2 linked regions of the Homo sapiens genome follow. The protein of the gene in region 1 purifies or fractionates together with the protein of each later gene. This does not show direct contact. Each region holds a gene or a part of one and is shown in the gene's direction. Other genes may lie near its edges. The genes, in order: DECR2 and SESTD1.

Region 1 (10,590 bases):
ACCCGCCACAATGCCCGGCTAATTTTTGTATTTTTAGTAAAGAGGGGGTTTCGCCATGTTGTCCAGGATGGTCTCGAACTCCTGACCTCGTGATCCGCCCGCCTCGGCCTCCCAAAGTGTTGGGATTACAGGCGTGAGCCACCGCGCCCGGCCCCGGACCCTTCTTTATTGGCCTCAAAACGGGTCATTTTGGGAAGCGGCGCGGGGCTGGCCGCGCTTCCCTGGGCCCCGGCCCTCCCCATGGTGTTTACGGGGAGGCGAACGGGGAGCCCAGAGGCTGCGAGCCTGGCCTGGACCCAGGAGCCAGGGGTATCCCACAAGTCCTGGAGGCTCTGAACGCGGCGCTGACGCCGAATACCTGTGAAAAAGACTCGGGGAGGAGACCCGCAGACCGCCGAGCTTCTGCCGCGGGAACCGCGCCCCCGGCCCCGCAATGCGCCTGCGCCTCGCGCGCCGACTTCCAGTCCCAGCAGGCCGCGGGCGGGGGCGGGGCCTCCGGGGAGAATTCGGGGGAGGGGCGGGGCCTCCGGGAAGCAATCAGGGCAGGGGCGGGGCGTCCGGGGAGTGGGGCGGGGCTCCCGGTTCCAGGCGAGTTCGCAGCTGCGCGCCGGGTCCTGGAGGCCGAGGCCGCTCCCGCCCGTTGTCCCCGCAGTCCCCGACGGGAGCGCCATGGCCCAGCCGCCGCCCGACGTGGAGGGGGACGACTGTCTCCCCGCGTACCGCCACCTCTTCTGCCCGGACCTGCTGCGGTGAGCGGGGCCTGGGAAGCGAGCGCAGCCTTGGTGCGGGGTCCGGTCCGCGGGCGCCGGCGCCCCCACGTGGTCCCCGAGGGCTCGCGTGTTAGGAAACCTGTCTTGCCTGGCTCCTTTCTTTCTTTTTTCTTTCTTTTTTTTTTTTTGAGACGGAATCTCGCTGTGTCGCCCAGGCTGGAGTGCAGTGGCACGATCTCCGCTCACTGCAAACTCTGCCTCCCGGGTTCAAGCGATTCTCCTGCCTCAGCCCGGCTAATTTTTATTTTTAGTAGAGAGGGGGTGTCACCGTGTTGGTCAGGCTCTTTTCGAACTCCTGACCTCAGGTGATCCACCCGCCTCGGCTTCCCAAAGTGCTGGGATTTACAGGCGTGAGCCACCGCGCCCGGCCCAACCTGGCCTCTTTCTTAACAGAAAATTTTAGGTTGAAATCATTTTTCCGGAAGACCCAGAAGGCCCAGGAATGCCAGGTTTTGCCCAGCAGCTCTTCATTTTCCTGCAAACGCCTTGGTGTTCACAAGAGAAGGCAGCCCGGGCAAAGGTCGATCCTCCCCGGTCACCTGCCCTCACTCGGCTAATGGGCGGATCCTTTTTTTTTTTTCCTTTTCTTTTTTTCAATTGGCAACATTTTCAAGTTTCTATTAAAATTTTGATCTTTTGCCAGGAGCAGTGGCTCACGCCTGTAATCCCAGCTCTTTGGGAGGCCGAAGCGGGTAGATCACCAGAGGTCAGGAGTTCGAGACCAGCCTGGCCAACATGGTGAAACCCCGTCTCTGCTAAAAATACAAAAAATTAGCCGGGTGTGGTGGCGCACACCTGTAATCCCAACTACTTGGGAGGCTGAGGCAGGAGAATCACTTGAACTCGGGAGGTGGAGGTTGCAGTGAGCCGAGATCGCACCATTGCACTGGGCAACAAGAGTGAAACTCCATCTCAAAAAAAGAAAACAAGTTTTAAATTATGTTCTCCAAGGACAGGTATTGACAATTCTCTCTGAGTGTTCTGCAGGAAAAAAAAAAAGTTTTTTTTCGAAACGGAGTCTCATTCTGGGTTGAAGCAATTCTCCTGCCTCAGCCTCCCAATTCTCCTGCTTCAGCCTCAGTGCGCCCAAGTGGGACTATAGGCACACAATACCACGCTGGGCTAATTGTATTTCTAGTAGAGGTGAGTGTCACCATGTTGGTCAGGCTGGTCTGGAACTCCTGACCTCAGATGATCCACCTGCCTCGGCCTCCCAAAGTGCTGGGATGACAGGAGTGAGACGCTGCACCTGGCCCAAAATTAATCTTTAATAATTAAGAATAGGAAAGGCAACTTGGAGATCAGCAAAAGTTTGCCATCCATCTGGTACAGTTTGTGCCAGTCATACCGATCAGTACACATTTAATGCGTACAAGAAAATCTCTAATAAATAAAAAAGCCATATTATCCCGACGTAGCTTGCTGAATCTCAGGTATCATATTTGATATTAGTGCCATGCAGGGCTTAGGAGAGAGGAAATTATAACCTCTATCTTGTTTAAGCCAGGGTATTTTTCTCTCTTGTATCTACTTCTGTCCATTTCTGTCAAAAGACACAGAAATACCCTTTCCCCCACTGCACTTTGCAAGTTTGTGTCAGCACAAGTTCAGGACCAGCCTGAGCAACAAAACGATACCCCTCTCTAGAAAAACTAGATGAAAAATTAGCTGGGCACTCTGGCATGCACCTGTAGTCCCAGCTACTGGGGAGGCTGAAGCAGGAGGATCCTTCTAGCCCAAGAGGTCAAGGCGGCAGTGAGCCGTGATGGTGCCACTGCACTCCAACCTGGATGACGTAGCAAGAACCTGTCTCAAAATAAATAAATAGGCCCGGTGTGGTGGCTCATGCCTGTAATCCCAGCACTTTGGGAGGCCGAGGTGGGTGGATCACAAGGTCAGGAGATCGAGACCATCCTGGCTAACACGGTGAAACCTCATCTCTACTAAAAATACAAAAAATTAGCTGGGCGTGGTGGCAGGTGCCTGTAGTCCCAGCTACTCTGGAGGCTGAGGCAGGAGAATGGTGTGAACCTGGGAGGAGGAGTTTGCAGTGAGCCTAGATCATGCCACTGCACTCCAGCCTGGGCGACAGAGCGAGACTCCATCTCAAAAAAAATAAAAAATAAATAAATAAATTAAATAAAATACTATAATTTTATGAATTTTCATTTTATTTATTTATTTATTTTTTAAGACCATGTTTCGCTCTTGTTGCCCAGGCTGGAGTGCAATGGCGCAATTTTGGCTCACCACAACCTCCGCCTCCTGGGTTCAAGTGATTCTCCTGCCTCAGCCTCCCAAGTAGCTGGGATTACAGGCATGCACCACCACACCCGGCTAATTTTTTATATTTTTAGTAGAGACGGGGTTTCTCCATGTTGGTCAGGCTGGTCTCGAACTCCCGACCTCAGGTGATCCGCCCGCCTTGGCCTCCTAAAGTGCTGTGATTAGAGGTGTGAGCCAAGGCACCTGGCCGAATTTTCATTTTAAATCATTGCCGTATAGCAATATGGGAGGTGTATTTTAACAGGGCTCTTTTATTTTTTATTTATTTTTATTTTATTTTATTTATACATATTTTTTGAGACGGAGTCTTGCTCTTTTGCCCAGGCTGGAGTGCAGTGGTGCGATCTCGGCTCACTGCAACATCTGCCTCCCGGGTTCAAGCTATTCTCCTGCCTCAGCCTCCCAAGTAGCTAGGACTACAGGCACCCACCACCACGCCCAGCTGATTTTTGTATTTTTAGTAGAGACGAGGTTTTACCATATTGTCCAAGCTGGTCTCGATCTCCTGACCTTGTGGCCCACCCACCTTGGCCTTCCAAAGTGCTGGGAGCCACCGGCCCGGCCCAATAGGGCTCTTTTAAAAGAGCCTCCTTTTTTATTCTCAGGGACAAAGTGGCCTTCATCACAGGAGGCGGCTCTGGGATTGGGTTCCGGATTGCTGAGATTTTCATGCGGTGAGACTGCTCTGTGTCCCTTCCCTGCTCCTCGCTTCTCCCTGCCCGGGCCCTGCTGGATGCCCGACCCCTGGAAAGATGTTGGTGGGAGGTAGATGTCCCCTGCTCACCTACCCGACAGGATCCAGGTGCCTGCCAGAGGGACTGGGGAGCGGTCGAGGATTGCCCTGGGGGGAGTCAGGACTTCAAGGCCCCTACAGGTCAGTGGAGATTGTGTGGCTCTGGTCTGGGGCCTGCTGGGACCTCGAGAGTCAGGGCTGTGTCGGGCCCCAGTGCTGGCGCCCTGCAGAGCACATTTTCTCCTGGGACACAATTCTGTGGCTTCAGGCCAGGGTCAGCAACTTATCCCACCTGACAGTGGCTAGAGTTAGGCTGGGGTGGGGGAAAGGGACCCTTCCTCAGTTCCCCTGAGGCCCCTGCTTTTCAGACCAAAAAGGTGAGTCCCACAGGAAGAGATATGGCCTTTCCACTGGTGGCTTTGTGCTCAGGGCATCTGAGGACCAGATGGGACATTGCAGCTCCAGTGGGACCTGCCTAGCAGGGGTAGCTACCTTTATGGTTATTGTGGGCAAGCAACCCCCGAACCAGAAGAGCCGAGAAACCAAAGAACAAGGCAGACAGATCCCGTTTGTCTGTGTCAGGTGATTTTACCAGGGAATTTGTGGGCAGAAGCGTAGTCTTGGGTGGCTGTGAGACGGGCGTCTCCATGCTGTTACCCCCAGGCCCAGGGCTTCTATACCACAGGGAAAGGGGTCCTGCTTCAGAGGGAGTGTGTAGGAATTTGTTTAGGATAACATCAAGGTGGTTTTGACCTAAAGGCAGGACTTCTTTGTGCTCTTTCGCAAGAACAGTAGATAAGCTGGAAATCCTAGCGGCATTCCTGGAACCAGGGTTCATAGAGGCCAACGTGGTGGATTCGCATCCACGTGGTCAGGAAGGGGAGCAGGGAGCACCCCGCTTCAGAACAGTCCTCCACGCCAGCCCCACAGGGAGAAGGGGGTGGAGAATGTGGGCCCAGCAGGCCCCAGGCAGATGTGTGGGCTGGGCGTCTGTGGCTCACAGCTGTCTCTGTACCTGGTGTTTGGGGCAGGACCCGCAGGCCTGTGCGGTGGGATGTCCCATGCCAGAAACCCCGGGGTGGGCACCACCTGAGGTCCCTCCAGAGTACCTCAGTCCTGTTCACGCCCCTGTGCCCTCTGCCAGCTGGGCCTTCAGCCTGGACTGGTACTTCCGCCTGAGAGACTCCTGCTCAGGAGCTGGGCAGATGCCCCGGGAGTGCCCCTCGCCCACACTGCCCTCACACCTGCTTCTGGTTTTGCAGGCACGGCTGCCATACGGTGATTGCCAGTAGGAGCCTGCCGCGAGTGCTGACGGTGAGAGGGCCTCTCCCATGGTCCCCTGTTCGGGTGGCTGTGGGGGGGCTGGGGCTGGGCCTGGGCCAGGAGAGTCCAGAGGCTATGGGGATGTTGGCACCAAAACTTTTTTTTTCTGAGACGGGAGTCTCGCTCTGTCACCCAGGCTGAAGTGTGGTGGTGCGATCTCGGCTCACTGCAGCCTCCACCTCCCAGGATCAAGCGATTCTCCTGCCTCAGCCTCCGGAGTAGCTGGGACTACAGGTGCCCGCCACCACGCCTGGCTAATTTTTGCATTTTTTTGGTAGAGATGGGTTTTCACCACGTTGACCAGGCTGGTCTCGAATTCCTGACCTCAGGTGATCCGCCCACCTCAGCCTCCCAAAGTGCCAGGATTACAGGTGTGAACCACTGTGCCCGGCCGGCACCTCAGCCTCCCAAAGTGCCAGGATTACAGGTGTGAATCACTGTGCCCGGCCGGCACCTCAGCCTCCCAAAGTGCCAGGATTACAGGTGTGAACCACTGTGCCCAGCCGGCACCAAAACTTGCACCTATCCTAAATATGGAGCTTCAGTGTAAGTGGCCTCCCAGAGACATCTTTGACTTTTTAAAAAATCTAGTTATTGGGTTCTGGGAGGGACCTTCCTGTTTGGGGGTAATGTGGCCCCAAGAAAGACCTCTGGGCTCACCTGGGTTATTTAGGTGGTCCGTGCGTCCCACCTACTGGAGCCCTCGACCTGGGAGGAGAGTCTCACCTGTGCCACCTCTGGTCTGCAGCAGGGGCAGGACATGGGTGACAGTGGCCTGGAGGGCGACGCAGAGGGAGGATTCTAGGACAGGTGGCAGGTGGGGGGAGAGCGTGGCAGGTTCCCACAAACATCCACTGGGGTCGTGGGCACTTGCAGGCTGTGCTTCCCCAGAGTGGGGTCCAGCAGCAAACCCAGGGTCCCCGAGGAACCCGGAAGCATCGTCCTCTGCAGATTCCAAAGGCCTTTTCTCCAGGCCGAGGCTGCAGGGCTGCTGTCTGCCTCTTTACCTGGCTTCTAGGCCGCCAGGAAGCTGGCTGGGGCCACCGGCCGGCGCTGCCTCCCTCTCTCTATGGACGTCCGAGCGCCCCCAGCTGTCATGGCCGCCGTGGACCAGGCTCTGAAGGAGTTTGGCAGAATCGACATTCTCATTAACTGTGAGTCGGTGCTGAGTGAGGTTGGTGGCTTCTCACAGGTTGGTGGTACCATTTGGAGGCCCTAGAACTCTGGTCATGGGGTGGGGACCATGCCAGGGAACCTAGCTGCCTGTGCTGGGGTGGGCTGCACCCCATCCAGGTACCTGAGGCCAAGACTCAGGCTCCGGCCCCCTGTCTCCGGCCCCATCTCCGGCCCCCTGTCTCCGGGCCCCTGTCTCCGGGCCTCTGTCTCCGGGCTCTGTCTCCGGGCCTCTGTCTTCGGCCGCATCTCCGGCCCCCTGTCTCTGGGCCTCTGTCTCCGGGCGTCTCTCTCCGGCCCCATCTCCGGCCCCCTGTCTCCGGGCCTCTGTCTCCGGCCCCATCTCCGGCCCCCTGTCTCCGGGCCCCTGTCTCCAGGCCTCTGTCTCCGGCCCCCTGTCTCCGGGCCCCTGTCTCCGGGCCTCTGTCTCCGGCCCCCTGTCTCCGGGCCCCTGTCTCCGGGCCTCTGTCTCCGGCCCTCTGTCTCCGGGCCCCTGTCTCCGGGCCCCTGTCTCCAGCCCCCTGTCTCCGGACCTCTGTCTCCGGGCCCCTGTCTCCGGGCCTCTGTCTCCGGCCCCCTGTCTCCGGGCCTCTGTCTCCGGGCCTCTGTCTCCGGCCCCCTGTCTCCGGCCCCCTGTCTCCGGGCCTCTGTCTCCGGGCCTCTGTCTCCGGCCCCCTGTCTCTGGGCCTCTGTCTCCGGCCCCATCTCCGGCCCCCTGTCTCCGGGCTTCTGTCTCTGGCCCTCTGTCTCTGGCCCTCTGTCTCCAGGCCTTTGTGTCCCGCCTTCTGTCTCTGGCCCTCTGTCTCCGGCCTGACTCCGCTTCTCTGGGTGGCAGCAGGTCAGCACAGCTGCAGCCCAAGTGGACGCCATGAACACAGCTCAATGGTAGAGTCGGGTGCCCTTGTGTCCTGAAATTCCGTCTTTAAAAAAAAAAGTAATAGCCTTTTTTTTTTTTTTAGACAGCATCTCACTCTGTCACCCAGGCTGGTGTGATCATGGCTTACTGCAGCCTCCACCTTCTGGGCTCAAGCCATCCTCCTGCCCCAGCCTCCTGAGGAGCTGGGACTACAGACGTGTGCCATCACGCCTGGCTAATTTTTATATTTTTTATTTTTTGTAGAGACAGGGTCTTAGTGTGTGTTGCTCAGGCCAGTCTCAAACTCCTAGGCTCAAGCAATCTTCCTGCCTTGGCCTCCCAAAATGCTGGGATTACAAGCAAGAGTCATCAATAAAATAGAAGCTAGCCTGGCCTAGCTTTTTTTTTTTTTTTAGAGGGAGTTTCGCTCTTGTTGCCCAGGCTGGAGTACCATGGTACAATCTCAGCTTACAGCACCCTCCGCCTCCCGGGTTCAAGCAATTCTCCCGTCTCAGCCTCCCAAGTAGCTGGGATTACAGGCGCCCGCTACCACACCTGGCTAATTTTTGTATTTTTAATAGAGATGGGGTTTCATCATATTGTTTAGACTGGTCTCGAACTCTTGATCTCAGGTGATCCGCCCGCCTTGGCTTCCGAAAGTGCTGGGATTACAGGCGTGAGCCGCCGCGCCTGGCCCCCAGCTTTTATTTTTATTTCTTTATTTTTTATTTTTATTGATTTTTATTTTTATTTTTTGAGAGAGTCTTGCTGTGTCGCCCAGGCTGGAGTGCAGTGGCGCAATCTTGGCTCACTGCAAGCTCCGCCTCCCGGGTTCATGCCATTCTCCTGCCTCAGTCCCCCAGTAGCTGGGACTACAGGTGCCTGCCACCACGCCTGGCTAACTTTTTGTATTTTTACTAGAGATGGGGTTTCACCATGTTAGCCAGGATGGTCTCGATCTCCTGACCTCGTGATCCGCCCGCCTCAGCCTCCCAAAGTGCTGGGATTACAGGCGTGAGCCACCACGCCTGGCCGATTTTTTTTTTTAAATCACAGTTTTAGGTTTATAGAATAATTAATAGTATATGGAATTCCATACTCCCACCTACAGTTTTCCCTGTTAACATCTTGCGTTTGTTACAATTGATGAACCAACACTGGTTTCACTCTGCAGAAATTCCCTTTTAAAAACATCCTGTGTATTAGTTTCCTGGGCTAACAGAGTACTACGACCTGTGTGGGTAAAACAACCGAAATATAATCTCCCAGTTCTGGAGGCCAGAACGTCCAAGGGGAAGGCGTCGGCAGAGCTATGCTCTCTGAAGGCCCCAGGGGAGAGCCTCTTCCTGCCTTCTGCGTGGCTTCGGGTACTGCCATAGCCCTTGGCCCTCCCGGGCTCGGAGACCGTCGCTGCACTGTCTGCCACTGTCTTCCCGTGGCGTGTGTCTGTGTGTCCTCTTCCCTTGTTATAAGGATGCTGGTCATTGGATTTAGGGCTCACCCTAATTCGTTGTGACTTCAGTGTAATTCGATTATCTCTGCAACCCACCCCATTTCCAAACAAGGCCACAGTCGCAGGTACGGAGCCAGGGCTTCAGCATGTCTTCTCTTCTCGGGGACACAGTGCAGCCAGGACGCCCGTCTTGCTCTGGTCATTTTGGAATTTATCCTAGGGCATGGGTCTCCTCCCTGTGCCACAGGGCACCTGGGCTCCCTCCTGCACCCTCCGCTCTGCCCACCTGGCCACCACCCACTTGGCATCCCTCTCCCCAGGCTCCAGCAGCTCCTGCGGTCTCCCATTCTGCAGGTGCGGCCGGGAACTTCCTGTGCCCCGCTGGCGCCTTGTCCTTCAACGCCTTCAAGACCGTGATGGACATCGATACCAGCGGCACCTTCAATGTGTCTCGTGTGCTCTATGAGAAGTTCTTCCGGGTGGGTGCCTCGTGCGCTCTGTGAGAAGTTCTTCCGGGTGGGTGCCTCGTGCGCTCTGTGAGAAGTTCTTCCGGGTGGGTGCCTTGTGCGCTCTGTGAGAAGTTCTTCCGGGTGGGTGTACTCCCAGCGGGGGCCTCCCCCTGACGGCCGCCCGCTCCCTGCCCTGGGCCTCCCCATGACGGCCGCCCGCTCCCTGCCCTGGGCCTCCCCCTGACGGCCGCCCGCTCCCTGCCCCGGGCCTCCCCCTGACAGCCACCCGCTCACTGTCCTGTGACCTCCCCCGACACCCGCCCGCTCACTGCCCCGGGCCTTGTGTGTTGCAGGACCACGGAGGGGTGATCGTGAACATCACTGCCACCCTGGGGAACCGGGGGCAGGCGCTCCAGGTGCATGCAGGCTCCGCCAAGGCCGCTGTGGGTATGACCACCCCCCCCCGCCCAGGTTTGCCCACGTGGGTCCCCAATGGGCCGTCTGCTTCCATCCCAGGAGGCCAGCAGTCTCCACTTGAAGCTGAGCCCAGCTGCAGGCAGCGAGACCTGGCCTTGGCCCTGCGCCCTCGCAGAGGGCAGAGCGGCCCTTTCATATCCAACTTTCTTCTGTGCAGACGCGATGACGCGGCACTTGGCTGTGGAGTGGGGTCCCCAAAACATCCGCGTCAACAGCCTCGCCCCTGGCCCCATCAGTGGCACAGAGGGGCTCCGGCGACTGGGTAAGGCTCTCAGGGAGCCCAGGCCTCCCACAGATCCTCTCCTGGGGCACAGGGTGCCCATGAAGCTTCCAGAACCTTGGCAGGGTGTATGTTGAAAAGCCCTGTGCTGGTTCCATGGTGGCAACTATGTTCTGTGCCTGGCCTGATCCTGCTCCATGCTAGGCCTTGGTGACACTGACTGTGTCCTTGCTGTTCCCAGATGCCTCTCAGGGAATGAGCTGGGGGAGAGGGGAGGGTGCTGGGTCTTGGGGCTCACGGGGCCTGAGCCTTCTGCTGCCCTCCAGGTGGCCCTCAGGCCAGCCTGAGCACCAAGGTCACTGCCAGCCCGCTGCAGAGGCTGGGGAACAAGACCGAGATCGCCCACAGCGTGCTCTACCTGGCCAGCCCTCTGGCTTCCTACGTGACGGGGGCCGTGCTGGTGGCCGATGGCGGGGCATGGTTGACGTTCCCAAACGGTGTCAAAGGGCTGCCGGATTTCGCATCCTTCTCTGCTAAGCTCTAGGTGAGGTACTGCTCCCGCTTCTTGGGGTCATCTGTGTCCTTGGACGCTGGTCACTGCATGGGCAGGTCTCTGCGGGACCCACGGGGCTGGCGTCTCCTTTGTCCCCATCCTCCCGGCCCCTGCGCCAGCCTGCCCACACATGGGTGCTGCCCAGTGGGGCTGAGCAGGAGGCGGGCGCTGGTGTACTTGCTCTTCTGTAGCGGCCTCGGCCTCTGCCGGCATTTCTGGCAGGTGCTGGGTGGCCGAGGCAGCCGAGGTGTTTTAGGGGGAAGCCGTCCTCAGCCGGCTACTAAGTTCTGAAACTCC
Region 2 (10,245 bases), on another chromosome or scaffold:
GAATACTATTTCTAATTTTTCTCTTTTTCAACTTGAAAAATATTCTCAAAATTATTAACTACCCTGAAGATACTTTGTCTTTAGGGGAGGAGGGCTGAGGAAGAAGGCATACATAATTACTTCAGTGTAATCCTTTATATCAGAGTAATCTTTCAGGAACTAAAATAGCAATTGTTAATAAAATTTAGTTTCTCATTATAGTCTAAAAGCAAAATAAATTCTGAAGTAGTCCAATAACAGAACTGTATGACCCCTTTAGAAATAAAATTTATCATGAAATGCTAGTTCTTTTAAGTTTGTATTAAGTTTAAATGGTAAAATGCATATAATTTAAATTTTATGTATTTTTATTTCAGAACATTTTTTAAAATATTAAAAATTATTTTTTAGTCTTGTAGTCATTACAAAATTATAAACGAGTTGTATACTGGTTCCTTTTTGAGGTCTACAAACATGCTCGTGTATCTTCCAATGCAAAAAAAAAACCCCTCCCTTTTAACCTGCTAGTTTTTCCAGCCTTCTTCACTGACTGACAGACTTCTTGGAGAAATCCACATCCAGTGCCCCTACATCCTCATCACTCACTACTCAGCACCTTGCAGTCTGGTTTTACACAGCACTCTACTGAAACTGTTCTTTTGAAAGTCAGCAATGGCCTCCCAGTTACCAAACTGAATGGTTTTTTTCTCCGTCTGAATCCCTTACCCTTTTCTCTGCAACATTTACACCATTGAGCAACCTTTCCTAGACAGTGTCTCCTTCCTTGAAGATGCTATCCTCTGAAATAACTGTGAGTACAGTCGCATAACCCTAATTTAAGATGTGCCTGCTGAACATGTGCTCTCTCAGATCCTGTCCTCAGAATGCTTTTGGCTCTTTTCTCGGTATCTCATCCTTAGAGTTTTTATTTTATACCAATGTTCTGGATTACATACCTGGTCCAGAAATCTAGACTTGTACTTCTTTTTAATTGCCTAGTTGACATTTCAACCTTGATTAAAGATTGACAATATTTATCACCTTTTCCTCCTGGAACAATTTAGGTTAATGGTGCAGCCTTTTTTCCTAGTCAAACATGCCAGGAAGTTCAGGGCAAAGTTCAACTGCTCCCTCTTGTCTTATGTGGTCACTGCTTCTGAGAACATCCAGGAAGTTCTTTCTATACTTGAATCATCTTCTCAGTCCTTTGGGGCTTTACTGCTATGAGTATGAACTTTTGTGATTATTTATTTCAGTCTTCATGATGGTGCTATCACATTCTACAGTTGTTTATGTCTGTACCCAGTAAGCTCTTTTGAGGGAAGGAATCTTGTCTTCTCCTATTCCCAGTCTTGCTCATGCATAACAGATGCCCATTCCTCCTAAATATGAATGCTGTATTATAGGCATTAGTAATAATCCCTGTTACATTGCAGTCTGAAGTATGTTTTAAACATACTTTTTTAAAGTTAGAACTGACTTACAAGTGAATCTATTCTTAGATTCTTAGATACTAACTACTTTAGATATTTAGTTATACTCAATAACTAAATATCAATACTCAATATCTGTTTCTTCTGAATTTCAGAGTAGTTAGAATGTTTTTCTTAAGACTTTGCTAGAAAGGAACTGGTTTGTTAGTAATTCTGCCATCAACTCATGGAGTTATAATTGCCAAATGAGTTAATTTTTATATACCTTAAGCTATCTTGCCTACAAAAAGTAAAATAAGGCAGGATTCATAAATGTTACTTGTAAATTGAGTGTTTCACATGAGGCCAAGTATGATTTTAACATAATGAATATCATTGCTCCTCATCTGTAAATTTGCTGCTGCTTTCATATGTGTATCTGTACATAGAGTTATGAATGAAAATCCAGTAATGCCCTAAAGCAACTTTCTTCCATAGGGTCAAAGCTCACTTAAGGTAAACGTGTGAAAAAAGTGACTGCAGTGTGTTTGAAACCACAAGCTGTTTCTATGTCATAAATTAACATCAGCTTGCAAGTCTCTGAAAGAACCACTCATTTGTAATTGGTATATATGTCACAACCTCCCACATTCCTTTAGCCCATCTCAGGGAATTATTGAAACGCTGGCAGGGTTAGTTTCATTTTGTTTTGGTTTTTTTGGGTTTTTTTGTTTGTTTGAGGATTTTTTTTTTCTTTTATCATTTGTTTGCTCCTGTGTAAGCTTAATATATAATGGCAGTTTGGCATCTGTTCTTCGCACATGTCTAACCCAGCAGAGTTATGCAAAAATGATGACTTCATTTTAGGTCAAATTGGCTTTGTTCCCAGTCCTCATTGTTGGTCACTTTGTTCAGTTCTGGTGACTCATTGGTGATGTTGATGAAACTGCTCAGCCTGCCAGCTGGGATATTGATGGCAGGTCTAGGCTTCATTGTTAGGTAGAAGATTGAATACTTCTCACTTTATACAAATTTACATTGGCTATTGCTCCCATGTGTTAGCTAGTCTTAACATGTTTGTTATTTCGTTATCTTATTAGCTGACATACGGAGTGGTATTATTAGTGTCGTACTCCTTAGCGTGAGCATGACAATTAAGTTACCTTACTAACAGTGATGAGTAAACCATACTCTGATCTAAACCCATTGTTACCAATGATGTGATTATGAAGTTAGCTGAATCTATGGTCTACATTTGAAGAAATAGTTCAGAATTCTCTACTACATTGTAAGTTACTTGCTAATAGAGATTGGGCATTATTATGTACTACTCCCCTTCTCACATCCTACCCAAAGTACACAAGGCCGTAGTAAAATACTGTTGCTACTAAAAACTAAACATACTGTGGTTGCTAATGTCCTTTACATCTTCAGCCTATAGGGAATGGTACAGGCAGAAACAAGCACCATTAAGTATATTATCATCAGTAGTGAGATCTGTATGATTAGGATATCTTTGCTTAAGCCCCCAAAGGAAAAATTCTCTAGCATTAAAAACATGGCTGGAACATAGCTAAGCAGTTAACCTAATTAGTAGACTTATTGTTAACGTTCAGTCCTAAAAATGAAAAGCTTCAGTTGGGAGTAGAAAATATACTATGCTGGTATATAGAGCAACAAATACCCTGATGAGATAAAATGAAGTAGAAACTTACCATTTGACATTATTTGACTTTCATACATGCTACTGAAAAGTCTAGGTTTAGCTAAGAAGCATAAATAATGGCAGTACTTGTAGAGGAAAGAACATACCAGCTAAAACAAGAACTGTAATGAATATAATGGAAAGTGTTTGGAGCTTGAATACTTGGCTTCAAAAATCTGGCTTTGCCATTTACTGTTAAAAAAATATCTGAGAATTTATCTCAGGCTGTAAAACAGAGAAGTCATACCAATTTCAAGAATAAAATATGATATAAAGAATTGTTGAAGCCAAAATATCCAGAAATAAACAGAATGGAAGGTATCATTGCTATAATTATCTTTTCAGAATAAAAAATAGAGTATTCTTTATCCTTTCTGTTGTCTCACATGACAAGCATGGGATGGTGAGGAAATGGCATATTGCCTATGTTCGCCGCCCCACCCCCTTAGTTCCACCACCCCTTCACCGTCACCCCCAGTTCACTAGTGTATCAGAATGCATCTTCAGAATTACACACTGAAGATACAAAAGGTCCAGTTGGTAAGCTCATCAGTAAATAACAAGGCTTTGAAATCTGACAAATTAGCTATTTTTGTAGGAAGATAATAGAACAGCAAGATGGAAGACAAGTGATGAGTATCATCTGTTTTGAGGTTGACAAGGTGTGACATAACCCTGTTAATAGACACAAGTAAAAGAAAATCATACTAGGATTGGATATTAGTGAGCGAGCACCGACCAGTAGAAACAACAACAGCATAAATCTGTTATTTAAGTATCCCAATAATGAGGTTAAAAAAAAAAAAAAAACAGAACAAAGCATGAAAAGACCACAATTAGTGCTGGCTATGCTTAGAGAGGAGCAGTCTCTTGGTAAACTCAGGCAGTGATGATGAACAGAAAATGGCCGACTGATACTGTAATAGAGGCATAGAACTAAGGACACTCCGTGAGCTGGCATAAATACAGGGGAGTCTTTAAGACTGAAAAAAGTTCATGGGTATGACACTTAATATGACTCAACATTACTGCAGAATTTTAAAGCAAACATGAAAGCTTGAGAATAAACACTAGTCCCTCTACTTCAAGAAAAAGCAGAACCTGTACTAGAACATGAAGAACTTAGAGATCAAAAGACAGCCAGAACTATGATGAAATATTTTGAAAGCAGTGGGCACATTTTTAAAGATTTTTTTTGGAGAACTTTATGAGGCTGTATGTATAATTCCTATATGTAATTTTATAGGAATTCTTAACTGAAAGTAGTTATCAACTGCTACTTATCAGGAGCAGTGTTATTAGGGATTTTAAGTTAGGCATGTAGAAAACTTTCTGACAAAAGGGCTATTGAACTCCAGCCAGTTCCCAGTGAATCTCCAGGAGGCACCTTAGAAGTCTTCACAAGCTGAATACCATGTCTTTAGGGTGTCCAAATGCTTCTGTCTTGGGGGAGAGATGAGAGATGACTGGGTGCCTTTCCACTCAGAACACAGTAGACCACTCACTATTTATGACCAAGCCTCACTTCTTTTCTATTACAGTTACAGATTCTTTTTTAGTCTGGAAGTTAGGGTAAATAAAATTTGTATGTTTGATTTTTCTCTTAGGAATGTTTTCTCATCTTAACTCTTATGTTATCTTTATGGCCAACAGATTTGCTCAGAATATATCATCAAAATATATGTATTGTATTTTGTAAAGGTGAAAGGATCGAAATACCACTTTGACAGTTATAAACCAGAGTAGATTTGAGAACTGATTGCTCACATCACACTTACGAATAGTCTCAGAAGCCTTTAAGAGAAACTTACTTCTCAATGGACACTTAGAAGAATTTGATGATCTTACTGTCATAAAATCAGTAATGAAATTCTCAGCAAAACTATTTGGTAAACATTGCACCCTGTATTTTTACCCAACATCTTGTTATGAAAATTATCAAATACATTAAAAAGTTAAAATAATTTTATAGTGTACTCACTACCTAGATGCTAATTAGCATTACCTATGCTTGCTTTGTCACATATCCATTCATCATTTCATATTATTATTTGATGCATTTTAAATTGCATATCATTAACTAGAGTTCATTGTTGGCTTTTTTACATAAAATTAGCATGCAATGAAGTGCATAGAAATATGTGTTCACTGAGGTTTGGCAAATGCATATAGTGCTATGGAAATAGGAAACGTTATCACCACCCTAGAAAGTTTCCACACTGCCCTTTCCAGTCAATTCCTGTCCCTACTTGACCCTCAAAGGCAACCACTGTTCCTTTTTCTACCATAAGATTTTTCTGTTCTAAAACTTTATATAAATAGAGTCACGCAACATGTACGCTTTTCTACAAGGCTTCATTTTTTTATTGCTGTTCTTTTTTATTGCTGAGTAGTATTCCACTGTATGACAATATTACAGTTTGTTTTCTTAATTTCCTATTATTGATAGATACCTGGGCTGTTTCCAGGATTGGCCATTATAAATAAAGCTGCTATGACCATTCTTACGTAAGTCTTTGTGAACATAGGTTTTCATTTCTTTGCAGTAAATTCCTTGGATTAGAATTGCTGGGTCACAGGGTAGTTTTAAAAGAAACTGCCATACCTTTTTCCAGTTCAGTTTTATTGTGCCCTGTATTTTGTATTTTGATGTGCATAAAGGTGTAAACTATTTTTATGATCCATATTGAAGTATTAGAAGAAGTGAGTTTGGAATAACAATGGCATTGTTCATGGTCAAGGATGACAATTGGAACTATCTGAGGAAAGCAAAGACCTGTCTGCCCCAGACAGCTCCTCAAGGGGTTCCTATGCCTGAAACTTTAGCAATATTTCACTCCTTGAAAGGTTAAAGCCCAACCATGGTGATATGTTAGCTAGAAGAAACAGCACTGGTTTGTTTATGTTACTAACTTTCACCACCCGTTTTCAGTAGGTAAAGTAAGACTGATCATTGAACAGAAAAGGTTATTTCTGTGATGAGGTTGAGGGGGTAGTGGAAAGCATGTATTGCTAGTAAGCCCCAGGTACAGCTATGTGAGAGAGAGTCACCTGGACAGGGAAGTCCCCCAAATGGTGGCCAGAAGAGCAGAAAACGGGGTGGGAAAAATTCTACCTCACAGTTTTGCATAGGGGATAGCTATGCTTTTACGGGACATTTTAGCGTTTAAAAATATTTTCAATATTGTCTCTTTATTCAATACCACCCAGCTGTAGTTTTTTCACACTCTGATGACTCTCTTATCCACTCTTTTACCTCTCCCAGCTGTTCTATTACATACAGCATTCACCTGTATTAGTCTATAGAATTATAATCATCTGTGTGTTTCTAATGCTCATTTTCAAAAATATGTATGGTTTATTCGATTTTTCCTATTAAAATTTTAAGGGCTGGGAAATTTGGCTTCTACTGTAAATCCTTATAATGTTCCACACATTGTAAATATGCAATAAAAATGTTAACAACTATAATGGCAGCAGGTTTTGGTATGTATTTCTTTGATATATTGTCACTTTGGACAATAAGTTTGATTTCTGTTAATAAAAGTTGTTCATAAAATCTAGGGAGAATTAAGTCACACTGGTCTCTATAAGATAATCTGATGAATTCTGCATCTTTGAATCAATTTGAGTTATTTTTTGTAAAGGTTTAAATTGTTTCTAACAGTGTTACCTAAAACCTTTCATTAAATCAAAAATGTAACTTGTATATTCTGAAATAACCTGGAGTCTTAGAAGACAGAGGCTTCTGCTTCCCTCTCCCGTGACCCCAACAATCCCTTCCCACAGGCTTGGCACAGAAGTTCAGTGCTTTCTCTACGTCTCATGTTGTCAGAAATAGGTTCTCACCATAATAGACAGTGGTGAAATTTCCATTGTTCCTACTGAGAAGTCCATTTTTAAGGCATCAAAGGTGAATGTGTATTTAGGGATGGAGGAGGCATATTACAACAAAGCTGTATTTAAAATAACACAATCATATCATGCTATAAACAATAGCAGTTCCAGAATGGCTACTAAGGATTTTGGACTGCCAGACTTTGGAAATTGGCAAGCCTTATACCTTGTCCAATGAAGTTAAGTACATTTGAGTGACAGTTCAACATACAAGCAAAAAAATATATAGAAGACATTGTACATTTGTTATTAATGGACATGTTTACTTTACATGTTAGAGTATCCATCCATCTCTAGGTTTTCCATTAGATGCTTCATTGTATCCACAAACCTGTTTCAAACCATTGAAGTGATCTTACCATTGTGTTTGTTCAAAATAAAATTGGGAGAAAATGTGAATGAGTCAATATCAACACTTGACATTCCTGTCTTTTTAATACATTTTATTCTTTTGTTTAGAAAATTTTCAGAATCGGAAAATCAGCTCTACTAATTGTCTACACATACACAAATACTAATAGTTGCATCCATCTGGGAGTCCTGTATTGATGGCAGTATCAGGCTTTCCTAGAATCTTCTGTTAGAACTGGGAACATATTTTCCCATAAAAAAATGATTAAAATGCAATTAGTCCTCTTCTTCAACTATATTATGGGTTATGCAAGCTACTGTAAGATGACCTAGAAATCTAGCATTAATTATATTACTGTATAAGTTAACAACTGACCTACCAATATATTTTTAGGATATATCCCACTCATTAGTTGGAAGCCACTCTTGTTCTAAGAAAATGTTTAGAACTCATAGACCATAAAGATGGTACTTAGGACATGAACATAGATTAAGTTTTGAAGGAGGACTATAGTTGCATTGTAGCCATGTAGTTAGAACTAGAATATGTGTTCTATACCAGTGGTTATCAAATATGAGTGTGCCTACAAATCAACTGGAAGTGTTACTAAAATGCAGATTCTGATTCAGTAAATCTGGGGTAGGACCAAAAGTTTTGCATTTTCAACAAGTTTCTAGCTGCTGCTGCTGCTGCCAGTCTGCAGACCACACTTCTGACTGCAAGATTCTAGAATACCTTTTATAAAAACTTCAATATATAAACTTTTCAGAGACAATGTCTGATCATCCTGCAAATTACCTAATTTCTCTAATTTGAATAGAAGAATACAGAGATGGCATTTTGGGAATTATATACTTATAGGGACTAGAGAAACCAAACATGTTTATGAAATTAACACGTTCTGAAAGATTAGCACATCCAATCTATGGTAAATTTTAGCAAATTCAAAACAGAGTGAAGCCTGAACTGTCATTTTCCAGCATCTCATCACTAAGGGAAGGTTGTTTTCAACTGGAAATAACTAATTCCTTTATGCTTTATTATTTAAATTTCTGTTTAAGAATAATGTGTAGTTATTATTTTTAAAGTACTCTAGTAAATAGAGAAAAATATAAAAAGTGAAAACTGCCCATTATTTATCAGTGCTGAGAACATAGTTAATATTTGATACATTTCCTTTGTATTTAACCTAACGAGTATGCTAGCATTCAACTTTATTTCCTGCTTTTTACAGCTATTATATCATAAAAAAATTATTAAACTTTTTTCCAGTTTAAGTCAATAGCTGTGTAATAGTCAATAATATGTAAATACCATGATTTAACTATTAAACTATTAGGTGAAACATTTAGTTTCTTTCTCTTTCTTTCTTAACGGTACTATAAGTAATGCTGCAATGAACATCCTTGCTCTTAACTTTTTGACAGCATCTCTCCTTGGGATTGATTCCTGAAAGTAGAAATATTGGATTGGAATGTATGCATATTTTGAGGCTTTTAATAGATATGGCCAAATTGCTTTCCAGAAGGTTAGGTAGATGTATGTGTCTGTTAACAGTTAGGGTGCCTGATAGACTGGATTAAGAAAATGTGGCACATATACACCATGGAATACTATGCAGCCATAAAAAATGATGAGTTCATGTCCTTTGTAGGGACATGGATGAAATTGGAAATCATCATTCTCAGTAAACTATCGCAAGGACAAAAAACCAAACACCGCATGTTCTCACTCATAGATGGGAATTGAACAATGAGAACACATGGACACAGGAAGGGGAACATCACACTCTGGGGACTGTTGTGGGGTGGGGGGAGGTGGGAGGGATAGCATTAGGAGATATACCTAATGCTAAATGACAAGTTAATGAGTGCAGCACACCAGCATGGCACATGTATACATATGTAACTAACCGGCACATTGTGCTCATGTACCCTAAAACTTAAAGTATAATAATAATAAGAAGCTCACACACACAAAAAAAAAAACAGGGTGCCTGTCTCATGGCACTATTTCCAGCATGAAGTGGTGTTCTTTTTAAAGTCTTTACAAATCTTTGAGAAAACCAGTTCACTGTACATTTCTTTAACCACCAGTGAGGCTGAAACAAATTTAATGATTTATTATTATCCATTGTGTTTCCCTTCTGGTGACTTGTCTGTTACTATTTTTGCATACTTTTCCTTTGGAGTTAGCTTTTTTTCTTATTTGTTTGAAGAGTTTTTTTTTAAATAAGGCTAATAATCCATCATATTTGAACAAGTATTTTTCCTAGTTTGTTATTTATTCTATCTTTATGAAGTTTGGTGATGTTATGCTCATATTTATGGTGAAATTTATTTACAGACCTTGATATTTTTATATTGCCTTAATGACTAGAAAATCTTTCCTCAGCTTAAATTTTATTTCTCCTGTGCAGTTTTTTTTTACTCTAGACTCCTACATTCAGAAAAAATTTTGGTGCCTTGTGTGAGGTGGTGATATAATATGATACATTTTTCCACATATCAAATGTTCTCAACATAACTTATTGGATAATCTATCCCTCCCATTGATTTCTGAAACTCCTTTGAAAATATATAGAGTTGAGTTCTTAAGTTTTCTGGGGCTACTTCTAGGCTAGCTGTTCTGTCCTGTTGATCAGTTTGTTTATAATTTTGCCTATACCATAGTGCTTTTAGTATTGCTTTAAAAGTAAGACAAACAAAAAATAAAAAGTTATTTTTTGTAGCATTGCAGAGAAACAGCTTTTCCTACTGAAAGAATTTTTTTGGTGGCATGGTGAGTATAGATGCCAGCGAATTTATGTAGTAAAGAAAAAGGTTATAGGCTTAGAGGTATTTTAGTCAAAACAAGGGAAGTGAAGAAGTAGTAGCTGTATAGCAGAGAGAGAGAACCTG

Evidence for each region.
Region 2: the proteins of DECR2 (region 1) and SESTD1 purify together in Homo sapiens (affinity purification with mass spectrometry; 2 studies listed by BioGRID and IntAct, with this or other methods). This does not show direct contact.

What each region holds. Positions count from the first base shown.
Region 1 is NC_000016.10:401,295-411,884, forward strand, and holds the start of DECR2 (peroxisomal 2,4-dienoyl-CoA reductase [(3E)-enoyl-CoA-producing]), read left to right. Parts: upstream 1-590; 5' UTR 591-669; coding exon 670-749; intron 750-3,661; coding exon 3,662-3,730; intron 3,731-5,051; coding exon 5,052-5,103; intron 5,104-6,130; coding exon 6,131-6,266; intron 6,267-8,948; coding exon 8,949-9,073; intron 9,074-9,396; coding exon 9,397-9,490; intron 9,491-9,677; coding exon 9,678-9,782; intron 9,783-10,066; coding exon 10,067-10,284; intron 10,285-10,590.
Region 2 is NC_000002.12:179,098,839-179,109,083, reverse strand, and holds the end of SESTD1 (SEC14 domain and spectrin repeat-containing protein 1), read left to right. Parts: 3' UTR 1-7,406; downstream 7,407-10,245. UniProt on the Homo sapiens protein: May act as the primary docking protein directing membrane turnover and assembly of the transient receptor potential channels TRPC4 and TRPC5.